Linked DNA regions of Homo sapiens: region 2 is linked to region 1. Evidence: fine-mapped expression QTL. Tissue or cell type: cerebellar hemisphere. Region 1 holds a variant in brackets; the other region holds the start of a gene. All regions are shown on one strand. Distances are between the middles of the regions.

Region 1 (8,000 bases):
TGGGTCTCTGGACACAGTCTTGGGGCCATGGCACAGCACTGGCACCTCTGCCCTCACCAGCCTTTCCCAGGACTGGAGGCCTTGTCTGTCGTTCAGGGTCACAGAATCTGGAGTCCTCGCTGTTCCCAGCCACACCCAGCCCAGCCTCCTGCTGGGGGCCACATTTTACCCCAATTTTTCTGCATCTCAGGACTTCACAACCATATTAGGAGTGGCAGTGAAGTCCATAACAGACTCGTAGGCTCCTTAAAAAAACTCTCCCTCCACAGCCCCCAGGACTTCCTGGTCACTGCCCGCTCTGAGATCAGGGAAGCCGTGGGGCCTCTCCCTGCCAGCTTCCATCCATGCCCCAAGGATGGGCTACTCACCCCTAATTCCTGTCCCTCCCCTGCAAATGGAGAACACTGGAAAATTACTCATCGCAGTCATTATTTGTGAGCAAGAATGAGATACTTCATTTAAAGCGGTGAATGCAGTACCTCGGCAATCACCAAAAAACAAAAAATAAAAATGGAGTCACAATATAAAGAACCTCAGGAAAAAGTGATTTTGCATCTTCCCAGAATAAATCAGTCACTCTATCACCTGGAACATGCTAGATGTTCAGCCAATGGTTTGTAAATTAATTACTTTGTTATTTTATTTCATATTTAGTAGGACCTGGTTGTATAAAACCAGAGTAAAACATGTTAGAAGTCAAGAGCTAGTTCTGAGCAAGTTGTGATACATGAGAGCTATTCAACAAAATATTTAAAACTTTGTAACATGTTTTTTAATTTTAAAAATCACATTTAAAAAGCCATCAGGAATGCAGTAGCCACAGCTTTTGCTAAAACAGTTTTTAAAAATTATTTTTCCATATCTGGGAGATTTGACCTTTTCGTTTTGCTTAAACTTTTGGTTGACACATCACGAGTGCACAGGACAGCAGCTGACAACTGCCCCGCGTGCTGGGCACATGCTTCTGCCTGCTCCAATATTTCAAAGCTGACTTATTGTTTGCTTGAAATGTGAATGAGTTACTGAAAAAATATTATGTGTCTCACAGTATTTCTATTTTACAGCCTTTAATAGTTGTTTTGCAGCTTTAAATCTGTTTGGAAAATGATGCCCAATGACTGTGTGTGGGTTTATGTCACCTGTGCTCACAGACATGTGAAGCAAAAACCTTGGCCTGCTCCCCAGCCTCTGTGCAGGACAAGCCAAAGAGCAGGCAGCGGCAGGGCCAAGAGGATCCAGGCTCCCCCTGGACCACACACGGTCACCGTAAGCACATGGTGCTCCGGGGGGTCCTGCTTGGTGGGTGGCTCACCCTTATGTGTCAGGCACCCATTTTATAGATCAAAACGTAGAGGTCTGGAAGTCTCAGAAGCAGCAAGGCTGTGGCCGCTCAGTCTCACAGTCTCACGTCCCAGGTCTTTACAGAGAACCAACACACATCCTCATACTTGAAGCTCGATGATAAGTACTCAGCGAAAAGTATCAGGCCAGTGCCGTGACTCACATCTGCAATCCCAACACAGTATCATCAGGCCAGTGCCGTGACTCACATCTGCAATCCCAACACAGTATCAGGCCAGTGCCGTGACTCACATCTGCAATCCCAACACAGTATCATCAGGCCAGTGCCGTGACTCACATCTGCAATCCCAACACAGTATCAGGCCAGTGCCGTGACTCACATCTGCAATCCCAACACAGTATCAGGCCAGTGCCGTGACTCACATCTGCAATCCCAACACAGTATCATCAGGCCAGTGCCGTGACTCACATCTGCAGTCCCAACACAGTATCAGGCCAGTGCCGTGACTCACATCTGCAATCCCAACACAGTATCAGGCCAGTGCCGTGACTCACATCTGCAATCCCAACACAGTATCATCAGGCCAGTGCCGTGACTCACATCTGCAATCCCAACACAGTATCAGGCCAGTGCCGTGACTCACATCTGCAATCCCAACACAGTATCAGGCCAGTGCCGTGACTCACATCTGCAATCCCAACACAGTATCATCAGGCCAGTGCCGTGACTCACATCTGCAATCCCAACACAGTATCAGGCCAGTGCCGTGACTCACATCTGCAATCCCAACACAGTATCATCAGGCCAGTGCCGTGACTCACATCTGCAATCCCAACACAGTATCAGGCCAGTGCCGTGACTCACATCTGCAATCCCAACACAGTATCAGGCCAGTGCCGTGACTCACATCTGCAATCCCAACACAGTATCATCAGGCCAGTGCCGTGACTCACATCTGCAATCCCAACACAGTATTAGGCCAGTGCCGTGACTCACATCTGCAATCCCAACACAGTATCAGGCCAGTGCCATGACTCACATCTGCAATCCCAACACTTTGGGAGGCCGAGGCGGGAAGATCACTTGAGGCTAGGAGTTCAAGACCAGCCTGACCAACATGGCAAAACCCCATCTCTACTAAAAATACAAAAAAAAATTAGCTGGGCGTGGTGGTGCCCACCTGTCATCCCAGCTACTCGGGAGGCTGAGGCACGAGAATCAGTTGAACCCAGGAGGTGGAGGTTGCAGAGTCGAGATCACACCACTGCACTCCAGTCTAGGTGACAGAGTGAGAATCCATCTCAAAAAAAAAAAAAAAAGAGAGAGAGAGAAAAAAAGAAAAGCATCAGTCCTGGATAGAGTTTAGGTTGTATCAACTTGCCTGCAAACTGTAGGAAGGTGAGAATAAGAAGGGAAAGATCTTGGCTGGTGCTCAGACTGGGTGGGTGCAGGAGAGACTCTTGTTCCAGAGCAGGATCCCCTAGGGTCAAAGCACAAAGAGAAATAAACTTCAGCACCTGAAAATTCTGTAATAAGAGTCTTTGAAAATGGAAAAAAAATCTATGCTTGACCATTGTTGTCTAAGAGAAGTTTGCTATCAATCCCTCCTCTAACGCCCTGAACAGAATGTTCTTCACCAGAACCCTGTGTATTCATCACCACACAGGCTGAGAGGCATTCCAGCATTTGTGCAACATCAAGATTTATGTGCAATTATCTTTATGGCAAATGTTCCACAAGTTATAGCTGTTAAAAGAAAATAAGATGCAAATGAACAAGAAGAAGCAGAGGCGCTGCCTGCAGCCTGGGAAAATTTGGGAAGCTAGCCTAATGAGTGAATTTGTTTTAAAAGGAAAGTTGGCAAACCTTATTCCAGTTCATTAAATTTCAACAAACAGCAAGGATTAAAGTAAGAATCAACACACAACTCTAAACAGGAATCAAGCGCTTAGAATTAGGAGCAAAGCTCTGGCCCTGGGGGCTTATGGTTTTGGAGAAGAAAGATTTTGGCTTTCATATATATATTTAACATAAACAGCCTTTGGAACAAGGCAACTTCCTTCTTCTTTCTGAAATGTGGTATGTTCTTGCCTAATGTGTCCCTGAATTCCACCTCTTTTATGAACAATATGAATATGCATAAAGGAGAATTTGGGGGAACCGTGCCATGCGCCCCTCAGAGCAGGAGCAATCTTGAGAAGGCGCAGGCAGAGAGCAGCGGGCGGCTTCTCCAGAGCAAGTAATTAAGTCCCGTGACTCCCTAGAACTCAGTGTTCAGTTCTGAAAAAAAACTTCGGGTTCAAACTCCCTAAGTCTATGGTCCTTGCATCAGACGCCTCTTCCCTGGGATTGCTGGGAACTGAGGAAGGAAGGGCGCTGCAGAGCTAACGATAGCAAGGGGCTCAGAGCTGGCCACCCCAGCTCCCTGGTGGCAGGAGAGCTAATGTGAGCTGATGGAAACTGAGAAGCAGCAGATAAAGGAAAAGCCATCTGCCCTGCCTCTATTGCCTAAAAGTAGAACATAAATCCGCAAAAGTGACCATTTCCCTCTCCAACAGAAAGGACAGAAATTCATCACCAGGGACCCCAGGCCCTCAACAGCCTGGAACCAGCCCCAGAGGCATTTGTGTGGCAAACCTCTGCAGCCCCGGCCTCCCTTCCTGTAGTTGCCCCAGAGAGGCCTCCTCAAAACGTGTTTCCTGGGAACTCAAAGTCCTTTGCTTTGGTCTTGCAGCTTCTTGGAAAATGATTGTTCTTTTGCTGAGGGGCTGTGCAGCAGAGTTCTAACGATCCATTCGAGTTTCCATCTTGGGGCGCTCAGGGGGCTCCCTCGTGGAAGCAGGAGTCCAGGCTAATAACCCCTGTGAGTTTTCCTCCTGTGACTCTGCCTTTTGTCAGTCTAATTTCAATGCCCCAGAAAATTAATCTAAGATGCAGGGAGAGAAAAGGTTTCTTCTTCCCCTACAGATGGATGTCAGTCATCTCTATTCAGCCAAGAAGTAGTTAACCTAAACAATGAAAACACCACCGGTTCCAGTAGAGACTTGAGACTATCTGATGAGA[G/C]TTATGTGTCTCTGGGAGGAAGTTTTCAATACAGAAATGGATTTATTTTATGAAACTTAAAAGACTAATAATCTGCAAGCCTATAAGAATGTTTTAATTCTGTAAAATATTTTACAATAAGAAAAGAAACTAGAGACTAAGCAACATATGATCAGTTAAACTTGAATAACAATATATTAATATTGGTCAATAACAAGGAATGATCTCTCTAGTAACTGCCGTTTCCAAGCATAGTAGAGAAGGATAAGCATGTTTCTTTATATTTAATCAGTTGGTTCTTAAATAATTGTCAAGTGCCTGCTGAAAACCAGCCTTTGGTCTTGGTCGTGAATAGCGCAGAACTTTGCAGAGCCCTGAAGAGACTCTCAGTGATAGGATGCATATACACAGGTGGTGTGAGTGACAGAGCTAATTTTTTTTCTGGTACCTAAAGATCAGCAGGATCAAAATTTCATAAAGGAAGAGCTGGGAGCTTGAGATTGACAATTTCATGAGATGAAGGATAAATTGTGCGTTACCTCCACAGCTCTGCAACATGGAGATTGGTCTTGGGCAGGTGGTGGACGTCCTGGATTCTGAGGAAGACCTGCACGCAATTCAGTGGGCATCAGGAGCCTTCAGATGCTTTCATCAAAGGCACAGGCACAAGCAGGCCTTGGTTTAGAAAGGTCACTTGGGTGACAGCAGGAGGGACAGAAGGATGGTGGGGAGATCAGTGCAGGAGCCAGTCAAGAGCTCCTTCTACTAAGGCAGTAGAAAGTGAGACTGACAACGGCCAGGCAGGAGCAGAACGTTCTCCCAGAGACATTATGGGGAAATTCACACCACATGGTGAGTGAAAGGCAAGGAAAGCCACGGCTGGGCTTCTTGCTTGGGGACTTGAGCTGGTAGGGTGGTTATTTCAGGCTGTTAACACCCCTCAACAGGGAACAGAGGAGGATGGCGTGACTCAGGAGAGAAGTTCAAGTGGAAAACGGGCGTTTGGGAGAGGACCAAAGGAGGGTGAGAGGAGAGGGCAAAGATCAGAGGAGCCAGAAATGCACCCGAGGTGACACTCACAGGAGGGAGACCATGGAGAGAAGAGAGCCACAGTGACCGAGGCTGAGAGAGAGAGTGGCCAGAGACTGAAAGCAAAAGGCACGACGGCCGGGAGCACTGAACGCTTGCCAGGCCCTGGACCAAAAGCCGTGCAAACCTCTCTGTAAAACCATCCTAAGACGTAACTCTGTGCACTTGCCAGGCCCTCAGCCCAGAGCCGTGCAAACTTCTCTCTTCAGAGCACACTTGCGAGGCCCTCGGCCAAGAGCTGTGCAAACTTCTCTCTAAAACCATCCTAAGATGTAACTCTGCAGCTAGGAGAGAAAACCGCGCCAGGTGAAGTGAGCTGCCGCGTCACTCGGAGATTGATTTGTCTCACTCCAGAGCCCATGGCCGTCACCCCTCTGCCACTTAAGAATGCCGGCAACATCCCAAAAGCACCAGAGTCCTGGGGAGGTGGGGGGCGGGGCTGGTTACTGCATTTGGCAAATAAGCGGTCGTGACTGACCACAGAATACAAAATGTGAGTTGAGTTGCCTGGGCAGTTGCAGTGGGTTTAGAAGGAAATAAGAGGAAAATAAAGGAAAATTCCAGGTGTCTTATATCTCAAGCTTTTGTGGGAACAGGAGGTTCCCTGATTCTTGAGAGCTGAAAGAAATCTCCATAAAGCCCGGAATGCTGGTCCTTGAGGTCCACACCTGCCACCGATCCTGCGACGCCCAGGCCGCCCCTCCCCTCTCGGCTCCTACTCACTCTTGGTGGCATCGTCCCACATTGCACTGTCCCCAGCACGCACACATTGGCGTAAAGCCAGGTCCCCTCTTCAGATTCCACACCCAGAGCCTGCAGCTCTGACGGCTGTGCTGGGGGTCCCCGGCGAGCTGTGAGCCCGTGCTAGGTGTTCCTCCCTCCCTCCTGCCCTTGCCCCAGGGAGCCCCACACCGGGGGGCTCTGTTCATTGCTCTCTGCCCAACCCTGAGGGGTCACCCTCTGCCCCAAGTGCTTAACCACTGGTTACTCATCCCAGAACCCAAGAGAGATCCAGCACGGAGGTTTTCTTAACTTTGCTGTATCACACTGTAAGAAACTGGGTGGCCAATGGAACAGACGGAGCAGGGCAGAGTGAGCAGGAAGAAATGATGCTGGGGAATTTGTGTGCTCCTTGGGTGGGGACGAGCATGGAAGGCGCGTGGGACTGAAGCCTTGAAGACCCCGCAGGCGCCTCTCCTGGACAGACCTCGTGCAGGCGCCTCTCCTGGACCGACCTCGTGCAGGCGCCGCGCTGGACCGACCTCGTGCAGGCGCCGCGCTGGGCCATGGGGAGAGCGAGAGCCTGGTGTGCCCCTCAGGGACTTCTATTTGCTTTTAGGAGCCAATTCATTCCTTTGGTGAAGTATTGATGCTACGCAGGTGAATTTAGTAACAGGACTGACGTGTGAACATGGCCGGAAACACTTGCCGTCTTCCTGTTACCGCGTCCGGAACTTCACGGTGATACCCAGAAATGGGATCTTAACCTCTTACACATTCCAGGTGCTAAAACAAATAACACAGGAGTGCTTTCATTGGAAACTACTGGTATAGTGGAATTATTTTATCTTTTATTAAATACACAAGATAGGCAAATCTTATCAACTTTACCACTGGCTCAGGTAACCAGTGATGAATGTTCAGAACAAAAGTTATTCGGAATCATTTGAAGTGGTTTGGGCAAGTGCGAAATTAAGGTGAGTAGCTCTGATCCCATCCTCCAGGCAGCTCCGTGCAGTGGGGGTGGACGCCCCTCTGTAGCGGGGAAGTGAAGGCCTGTGGAGGGAAGCGACCCCGGGACCTGGCTGCCTGCCTGTCCCGGAAGCCACGTGGGCATCACCGCAGCAAGATGGGCTTGAGGAACAAAGCAACACTGTCAGTGAATCGCTGAACTGTCATTGCGCTTTGACTGTGTGACATTCTGTTCCGTAGGAAAGCCTGAGGAGTCTCGTGTCTCTAGCGTCTTGGAGGAAAGCAAGCGCCTGGTGGACACCGCCATGTACGCCACGATGCAGAGGTGAGCCTTGCGGAGGGGCCGCCGCCCCAAATGCCACCGACAGGCGCATCCTCCCTGACATCCACACACGTGTGGCCTGATTTTCGCAATTGCAGATGAAAACCTGAAGCTTGCCATTGTTAATTTACTTCCCCAGTGTCATGTGCAAGCAGCAGACAGAACTGGTATTTAATCTCCAATCCTTTCTTAAGCAAGACACAAAGGAGGAGCACCCTGATGCAATTAGCAATTACGTATACCCTGGTTAAAAGACAGTAGAGGCTGACGTCCTGATAGCAAAACCAGCCTCTCTTCTCCAGGATTAGGACAGATTAAGGAGGAAAAGAGAGACCTAGATCCCAGATCTTTGGTGTTGTGATATAACTGTAACATTACCTGTGGCATAGAATAAAGAATTAAATGGGGCTCTCCCCCATTTTTGAAATAATTAGCATTTGTAATTATATAACAGACACCACTATTAAGAATATTGTGGTCTCATATTACCTGTCTAGAAAAAGAAAAGAAAAACAAAAAACAAAAAACCTGTAAAGCAGTTTGCCCTCCCAA
Region 2 (8,143 bases), 740 kb before region 1:
GAAGGAGGAGGGCCAGGAGAAGCAGGACAGCCAGGCAGGTGAGAAGGGTAGGCTAACACAGGAGGTGGTGGGCATGGGTGCGGGGAGGAAGGTGTGGAGGGCTGACGTTACAGGGGGAAGGTGGGGAGGGTGGTAGGCACGGGAGGAAGGCGGGCAGGGAGGGTGTCACCAGGTGCTCCTCCTCAGCTATTCCTGAAATGCACCCTGGAGCAGAGTCTGAATCTTGAATCTTGATGGTGCTGGTTATAAGCTGTATAGCTGAGGGAGTTAGAGAACCTCTGCATGTTTCATTTATAAAAATGGGCAAATAAAATCCAACTCTTGGCTGGTTTGAGAAATGAATCACAGGAAATGTAATGGCAGGCAGCACAGTGTCTAGTATTACCCCGGTGTGAAAGCAGTCATCCTTCCCCTTATCCTAGAAAACATCAAACCCTTTGTGCAGTTCTCCAGCTGACAAAGCTATTCAGATCCAGGAGCTCAGCTGGTGAAGCCATCACCTTTCTTTGAGATGCCTGCCTCAGGGCCTCTGCGTGGGGCACTTGCTCCTGCCCTCTGCCAGCATCTCACTGCCTGGCTCCTGCCTATGCACCTTTTGCCCCTGGGTTCCCAGGGGACTGTGTGATTTAAATCAGGCCGCTCCTCCTGTTTCACTGTGTTTTTGGCTTTTCCATTGCAACACTTGTCACTGTTGATAACACAGGTCTGTGATGAATCACTGGTGCTGGTGTCCCCCAGGAAGCTGTGGGAGGCAAAGGAGCCCTGTCTGCCTGGTCCACTCCAGCACTCCTCAGGGCACCCTCAATACAGAGCTTGCTCTGAGCGCCTCACTTGCATAGGCCCCCACTGTGATGCAAACCCTCATCACTTCTCCAGTCTTTCTAAGATCATCTCTTCTTCAGATTTCCCGCTTTGCACACAGCCAGCTAACTAAACTTATCTGAAATTAGTTATTTTTAACTACCAAGCAAAATCTTCAGTGTCTCCCCAATGTTGAGAGTCAAGAGTAGCCTGAGCCAGGCCTCCAGGCCCTCCTCGCCTCTTCTACCCACACGTGTTCGTAACGCTCAGCATCAGAAGTGCTTAGGTCCTGGAGGGCTTGCAGTTTCTCTGCCTCTGATCCACACCTTCCATCTATCTCAGTCTCTGCATGTCGGGCTGCTGCCCTCCCAGGGCCGTCACCTGCTCCCTCTCTTTTCTTATTAACATTTTACTCACTCTTCACACCCTGTGCCATGATTTCAGCTTTTCTGAATAATCTTTCTCAGTCATCCTGTGCAACTCCCTAACTTCTCTAAGTTCTGTAGCCCTTATCCTTGAAACCAAGTTGGGCAATGCCTTATTTTATGCACAGAACTTTTCTTTCCCAGTTTGCAATCTTCCTCCCATTCAAAGCAGTGCATGAGCACAGCTGCCACCAAGGACGCATCTTGTGTAAAAGACAGCACTTCCGGAAACCCAACTCTCCTGTGTGCAGCTGGTGCTCAGCACCTCCCTGGTAGGCAACAGGAACTCAACAGATTCCTCTCAACTCTAACATCCAAAAAGTAGTTTTCTTTATAGCTTCCAAGAGTGAAAAACGGGAGTGCCCTGGGAGCAGGCACATGACAGAGGGTTGGGAGGTCTTGTAAAAATATGTATATATTTCGAAGACACAGACAGAACATACACAGTTTCATTTCACACAGTGATCTGAGTTGTGGAGTTTGTGTTGTTTTACTCACCTAGACACAGAAAGTGCCCGATCTGTAGTCTGTAGCTTCGGGAGGACAAGCAGGTGAGGAGCACGCAGAGCGCGTGGAAGGTGGCCAGCCCCATGAGCCAGGGCTCAGTCCAGTCCGTCTGCTGTAGGAACACACCAGCAGACACTCACTGTCCTGCCACTCAAGGCCGGGTTCACGGCCCACCCACAGCCTTCTCCCAGCGCAGGAGGCAGGGGCCTCTCACTCCTGAGTCCTCCTGGGCTACTCACCAAGTATCCAGAGAGCATTGCCAGGCCTCAGAGAAACATGGGGACAGGAAAGGGAGAAGGAACCAGGAGGATGGAAACAGGATTCTCCCCTCAGTGCAACTATAATTCATGGAATTCAAAGTTCAAGCACACAGAACTGAAGGCATCTCTGATGTGCTCCTTTCGTTTGTGGAACAGAATCATGTTTTTAAGGTGGGTATAATTAAAGGAATTACCATCCTTTACGATGATAATTGGTTATGATAATTGGTGACGACAAGGAAATTAAGACGATTGCTCAAAGAGATGCACTTGGCTCAGCCCCAAAGGTAAAACATGAATCATCATTTCAGACTCCTTAGTCAGCACTGAAGACCTCAGGGAATCTTGAGCCATCGCCACGTGCAAGACTTGATTTTCTCCAACCTCTCTGCAATACACTGAACTCTCCAGACAGTGCCGCACTCCGCCGCCTCCTGGACTCCCCGGGACCCTGCTGTACCTGGGGACAGTGTCTGGCTCAGGGACCTGAAGTAGCCAGGCTCAGATCCACTGCTGCTCAGTCCCCACCTGATGCTCAGATGCCAATCCCAGCAGTCCTCAACCCTCCCCATCCCCTCCTTGAGCGCCCTCCTGCAGAAGACAAGCCCTGCCCTCCAAGCTGCAGCCCCGCCCTGCCCTCCAAGCTGCAGCCCCGCCCTGCCCTCCAAGCTGCAGCCCGGCACAGCCCTCCAGAACTCCTGTGTCACTACTCTCTGCTGGGGACCGCAGCGGCTTCTCCAGAGCCGCGCCATGACATAAGGACACAAGCGCATCTACTCCCATCAATGCACCCACCAGAAGACCAGAGGCACGGAGGTGAGGGGAGCACGGCTTTCTGCCCAGACCCCATCGAGTGCCCATGTCACCCCTTGGCGGCCACGTGGGGCGTGGGCTCCCCTGGGATCTGTCAGACGAACCCGGCACGGCGCACGCCCCGCCCACACTGGGCAGCGTTCCTCCGTGCCACCCCACACGATCAGGCTCCACCACGCACGCCCCGCCGCACTGCCAGAATCCGCCCACATGGCCCAAGCCCCGCCCGCAAGACGCTGGACTGGCCGGCGTGCACCTCCCACACGAACAAAGCCCTACCCCTCGCGCTCCGCCCACACAACTCAGCCACGCCCGCACGGTGCAGGACGCCAGCCCAGCCCAAGCCCGGGCCACAGAGCGCCGGAGCCAGCTCACTGCGCACGCTCCTCCACAAGGCCCCGCCCGGCCCCGCCCCTCCCCGCCCAACGGCCCAGGACCCCGCCTAGCGCTCGCGCCCCGACGCCCGGCCCCGGCCCCCTCCCACAGGGCCCAGGACCCCGCCCACAGCGCGCGCCCCCGACGCCGGCCCCGAGCCACTCCCACAGGTCTCAGGACCCTGCCCAGCGCGCGCGCTCCGCCACAAGGCCCCGCCCACGGCCGGGGCCTTCTTGGCCACAGGCCGGGTGCTCTGTGGGGCCTACCCTACGCCTCTCCGCCGTCCTCCCCCGAACTGGTGGTTACGCGGGCCGCGAGTTACCGTGAGCACGGCTGGGATGCTGACGGGGAAAGAGCTGACAGAGAAGGCGGACGGCATGGTGTTGGGAAGCCCGCTCTCACAGCAACCGCCGAACCCGGCCTGGCCAGAATCCACAGAGGAGGGCGCCAAATCCTCTCTCGTGAGATCTGCCCTTCTCACGAAACTTGCGCTTGCTTCCTCTCGCGGTAATTTCATGGCATTGCTAGGTCCAGATATCGCGATATTTCCTGGTGGTCGCTGTAATACGGAAAACTTACTACGCTGCTGTGGGACTTGTGCTCGCTCCGCCAGGAGGCCGAGGGCGTCTTTAGTTCGTTAACAGAGGAGCAGGCGGAGGCGGGTGGAATTTAGGAGGTTTGTTTCAAAGGCTCAGGGCGCTGTACCGCCACGCCAGCCCTGTCCCACCTGGGACTCCCTAGAAGGGTCAGAGCATCAATGAGGACGGTGTCCGCCCCGAGACCCTGCAGGAGCCGGGGACATTGCCCACTCCTCGGACCCTGCAGGACTTGGGAAGGTGTCTGCTCTCGCGACCCTAAGGGCAGTGCACTCTTAGTCTGGGTCAGCTTAGGGTTATCTGTCTTCACTTTGGAGATTTACCAGATGTTCTTACGCTTCACTTCGTTGTTCAACGACAGATACAAAAATATAAAGTTAATTTTCTTCCAGCGAATTTTTTCCCTTTATTTTAACATCTATACCCCAACTTTGACATTTTCAAATTAAACATTCTGTTATTTTAACATCATGAATTATTAAGTGTATATACTTTAATTGCATATGTTAGCTCTTGAACTAGTTTAATGTTTCTAAAAATAGTTCTAGTGGTGGACTTTTTTTTTTTTTTAATAGCTTTAACCCCTCCCAGATCTTTCTTAAAATCTTTCCACAGTGTGGTCATTTCTGCTTATGCTACTTAACATGCATTCTCTCATTTCAGTGTAGAAGGTCATGGTTTCTTCTTATGGGAAAACATTTCTTTCATTGATATTTTTCTCTATTCTTCCTGTATTCAACTCCAGGAACATCCCGTTAGGTAGATAGTGCATCTTCCTCTCTTTTGTGTTTCTCAACCTTCCTCTCAAAACATCACGACTGTTGTTGCTGAGTTTGGGAAATCTCGGGCTTGGCTTTCCTGGTTTTTTTTTTTTTTTTTTAAGACGATGTCTCGCTCTGTCGCCCAGGCTGGAGCACAATGGTGGGACCTCGGCTCACTGCAACCTCCGCCTCCTGGGTTCAAGCTATTCTCCTGCCTCAGCCTCCCGAGTAGCTGGGATTACAGGTGTTCGCCACCTCACCTGGCTAATTTTTTTTGTATTTTTAGTAGAGACGGGGTTTCACCATGTTGGCCAGGCTAGTTTTGAACTCCTGACCTCAAGTGATTTACCCGCCTGGGCCTCCCAAAGTGCTGGGATTACAGGCATGAGCCACCGCACCCAGCTGGTGTGATGGTTTTCATCTGTGTCCATTCTCACTCCCCTGTGTTTGTTCAGCTATTTTCAACAGGACCTTTCAGTTACAGGGAATAGATCTGTCCTCTTCAGTTCAGCCTGTTACTGTGTATCTCCCTGATGATATTTCGTTACTATGTGAAACATCACTCTTATTAATTTCCATGGGTTAGTTTCATCGTCAGTCCTGTCTGGTGCCTGCCTTTCTTTTGTGGTGTCTGTTTTCTTGTAACTTCTGTAATTTGGGGTCAAACTCTTTTTGCTATTAATATTAACCACAGCCTATCTACGGTCACTGGGATTTTTTCTCTTCATCTTCCCCTCAGCCGCCCTCCCAGATCTTTCATATATTGTGCGCCCTGGCACCCAAGTTTCCAAAATTGTTAAAACTCTGGCCCTCAGCAGCTTCACTTTCAGTCCCAGGACATTCATCTTCCACATTCCTCCCGCCCTGCCGTTCTGAACAACGCTAGGCTGCCGGACATTTAGACGTGAAGCTTGTGCAATGTCGCCAGTCTGAGATGTGCTTTAATTTCAAACATACACCATCTTTCAAAGACTTTGTACCAAAATGTAAAATACATTATCAACAATTGTATTATTTTGCTTACATGTTGAAATTATATTTTGGACATACTGGACCAAATAAAATATATCAATAAAATTAATCTCTTTCTCTTTGCTATTTTAATGTGGCCAGTAGAACATGGCCTGCTCTCTCTGTTGGTATGTGAATGCTGACATGGACTCTATTCCATTTACCTGGAATTTTGTGCTTCCAGAAAAGACTGGATGAAGCCCCTCCCCTCCCTTCCCCTTCCCTCGCCACCCTTCTCTTCTCTTCCCTTTCCTTTTTTTTTTTTTTTTTTTTTTTTTTTTGCGTTTTGCTCTTGTTGCCTAGGCTGGAGTGCAGTGGCAGGGTCTCGGCTCACTGCAACCTCTGCCTCCTGGGTTCAAGCGATTCTCCCTGCCTCAGCCTTCCGAGTAGCTGGGATCACCGGCGTGTGCCACCATGCCAGGCTAATTTTGTATTTTTAGTAGACACGGGGTTTCACCATGTTGGCCAGGCTGGTCTCGAACTCCTGACATCAGATGATCCGCCTGCCTTGGCCTCCCAAAGTGCTGGGATTACAGGCGTGAGCCACCACGCCTGGCCCAATTTTGTTTATTTCTAAAATAGCTATTTAATCCACATACAATTGGTTTTCAAGAGCTTTATTAATGGGTAAAATAAGTTTGTGAGCTGTAATGTTTTCTACAAATTAAAGCCAGTACTTGATAGCTTTCTTGTTCTTTGCATTGCTCAGGTCCCAGCAGGCAGCTGATTGTTTAGATGGAGAGACCACAGGGGAGAGTTACCTGTTGCTGTGGGAGCAATGAGGAGTTATGGAGGAAAGGAGAGGTACCAAGACCAGGTCTGTGCCCTGTGACCCAGAGGCAGCCTTGGGAGGGGCGTCTGTCTAGGAAGAGCCACAGCCAGGCTGACATGGGCAGGACCCCCTGGACCTGGCCTCCATAGCCCCATGCCAGCCGGGGTGCCAGGTGCAGACCCCTGGCCTGGTGACAGCTCAGACAGTGCCAGAAAGCCCAGGAGGGTCGGACCCTAGGGGACGGCAGGGTGCATCTCAGGAAAGGTTTAAACACTGTAGCACACCCAAAGAATGGTGTGAGCCCAGAGGTTTCATTCCTGAAGACATCATGGCCAATAACTGAGATCCCTGAGAGCTGGACTCTGGGCGCCCTCAGTTTCGATGTCTTGGATGCGAATCAGGCCACAGAAGTGCCCTTATCTCCACCACTGTGTTCTCCATTTATCCCCATTGAACTTGCCAAGCTCAGCAACATCCTGCAGGACACCAACCTCACGGGCTGGGTCTACGACCCCGGGCAGCTTCTGTGCGGGTTCCTGGTTCCTCCCTTTGTGTCTCTGGGCTGCACCAGTTTGACCCTGATGTGAAATCTGATGCCTCTGTCAGTTTGTACAATGCGGTTTACAATAAAGCATTTGACAGCAATGCTTAATTTACCATTTCCAAAGCTCTCATTCCTTTCTGAGCATTTTCAGGTGGTATCATTTCCTCTCAGACTAAAGAATTGCCATAAGCATCCCATGCAGTTCAGATCTGTCGGGGATGAATCGACTTCATCTGAAAAATGCTCTTGTTTTGTCTTCATTTTAAAGGATATTTTTTCTGTGAATTGTTGAATACTGCTTTTCTTTCTTTTCTTTGACCACATGAGAGATATTCCACAGCCTTCTGTCTGCCATAGTTTCTTGTAGAAAAGCAGTGATGTTTCTAATCCTCATTTTCCCATAGATAACATGTCATTTTTCTGTTTTCAGAATATTCTGTTTATCTTGGTTTCAGCAGTTTGACCACGATGTGCCTAGAATTAGTTTTCTTTGTATTCATGTTGCTTGTGTTTGATAAATTTCTTGATTCTGTGAATTTATATTGTTAATTTTTAGCATTATTTCTTCATTTTTTCTCTCTCATTCTTTTTCTTCTCTTTATTAGATGAGGACTGAACATTAGACTTCCCATGATTGCAGAACTGTCCTTCGCTGCAGCTGTAAAATCGCGGCAAGGCAGGATTCATCCTGGTGGTGGGTGCAGGCCCTGATTCCCGTCACTGAGCAGGGATACAGCAGGAAGCTCCACCTCTGAGCACAGCAAGGGGATTGTTCTGATTCTGAGTGTGTCTGTTTGCTAGAGCGGTGGCCACACTTCCCCGGTTCTGCAATTGTGGATAATTTAGCATGACTTGTTGGGCATTGCAAATATCATGTCGTGGAGAGTCTGGGCTCTGTTATTTTTTCCAGCTGTGTGTGTGTGTGTGTGTGTGTGTGTGTGTGCATGCACGCGCACGCGTGTGTGTGATGAGACCATTAAGTTGGTTTGACAGACTGCAAACTGCCTGTTGAACAGCAGCTGAATTCTTAATTTGGTTCTTTTATCCTTCTTGTGTTTCGTGGAGTTTGCCTCACACATTCAGCGTTCGGATGTCAACTGGAGTTCTGGATGGAAGTTATACACAGAATTTGGGGTTCTCCATCTCTGATTCTCTCCTTCCTTCTCAATTTTTAGCAGGCATATTCCCAATTTCTTCAGGAGGGAAAGACCAAGGGTTTCCTGTTGGTGTTTTGGCAACTCCGCATGGCATGGCGTCAGACTCACCCTAAGCTAAAAA

What was found. PIP is the estimated chance that this variant, and not a neighbour inherited with it, causes the effect.
Region 2: TMEM18 starts here. The variant in region 1 is fine-mapped to the expression of TMEM18 in cerebellar hemisphere (GTEx, PIP 0.98).

What each region holds. Positions count from the first base shown.
Region 1 is chr2:1,415,679-1,423,678 of GRCh38, forward strand. TPO (thyroid peroxidase) reads left to right here. Exons shown (of 17, transcript NM_001206744.2): 3 at 7,367-7,451. Among named protein-coding and RNA genes, the nearest start is that of TPO, 6.2 kb to the left of the region's middle. RefSeq lists an enhancer at 1,622-2,821. The variant G/C (reference allele first, on the strand shown) is at 4,367.
Region 2 is chr2:673,786-681,928 of GRCh38, forward strand. TMEM18 (transmembrane protein 18) reads right to left here and starts at 3,621. Exons shown (of 5, transcript NM_152834.4): 1 at 3,504-3,621; 2 at 1,725-1,845. The coding sequence starts at 3,560. TMEM18-DT (TMEM18 divergent transcript) reads left to right here and starts at 3,587. Exons shown (of 3, transcript NR_183417.1): 1 at 3,587-3,688; 2 at 6,259-6,366; 3 at 7,471-8,143. RefSeq lists enhancers at 108-609, 610-1,109, 2,896-3,661, 3,564-3,663, 3,694-3,763 and a silencer at 3,154-3,403.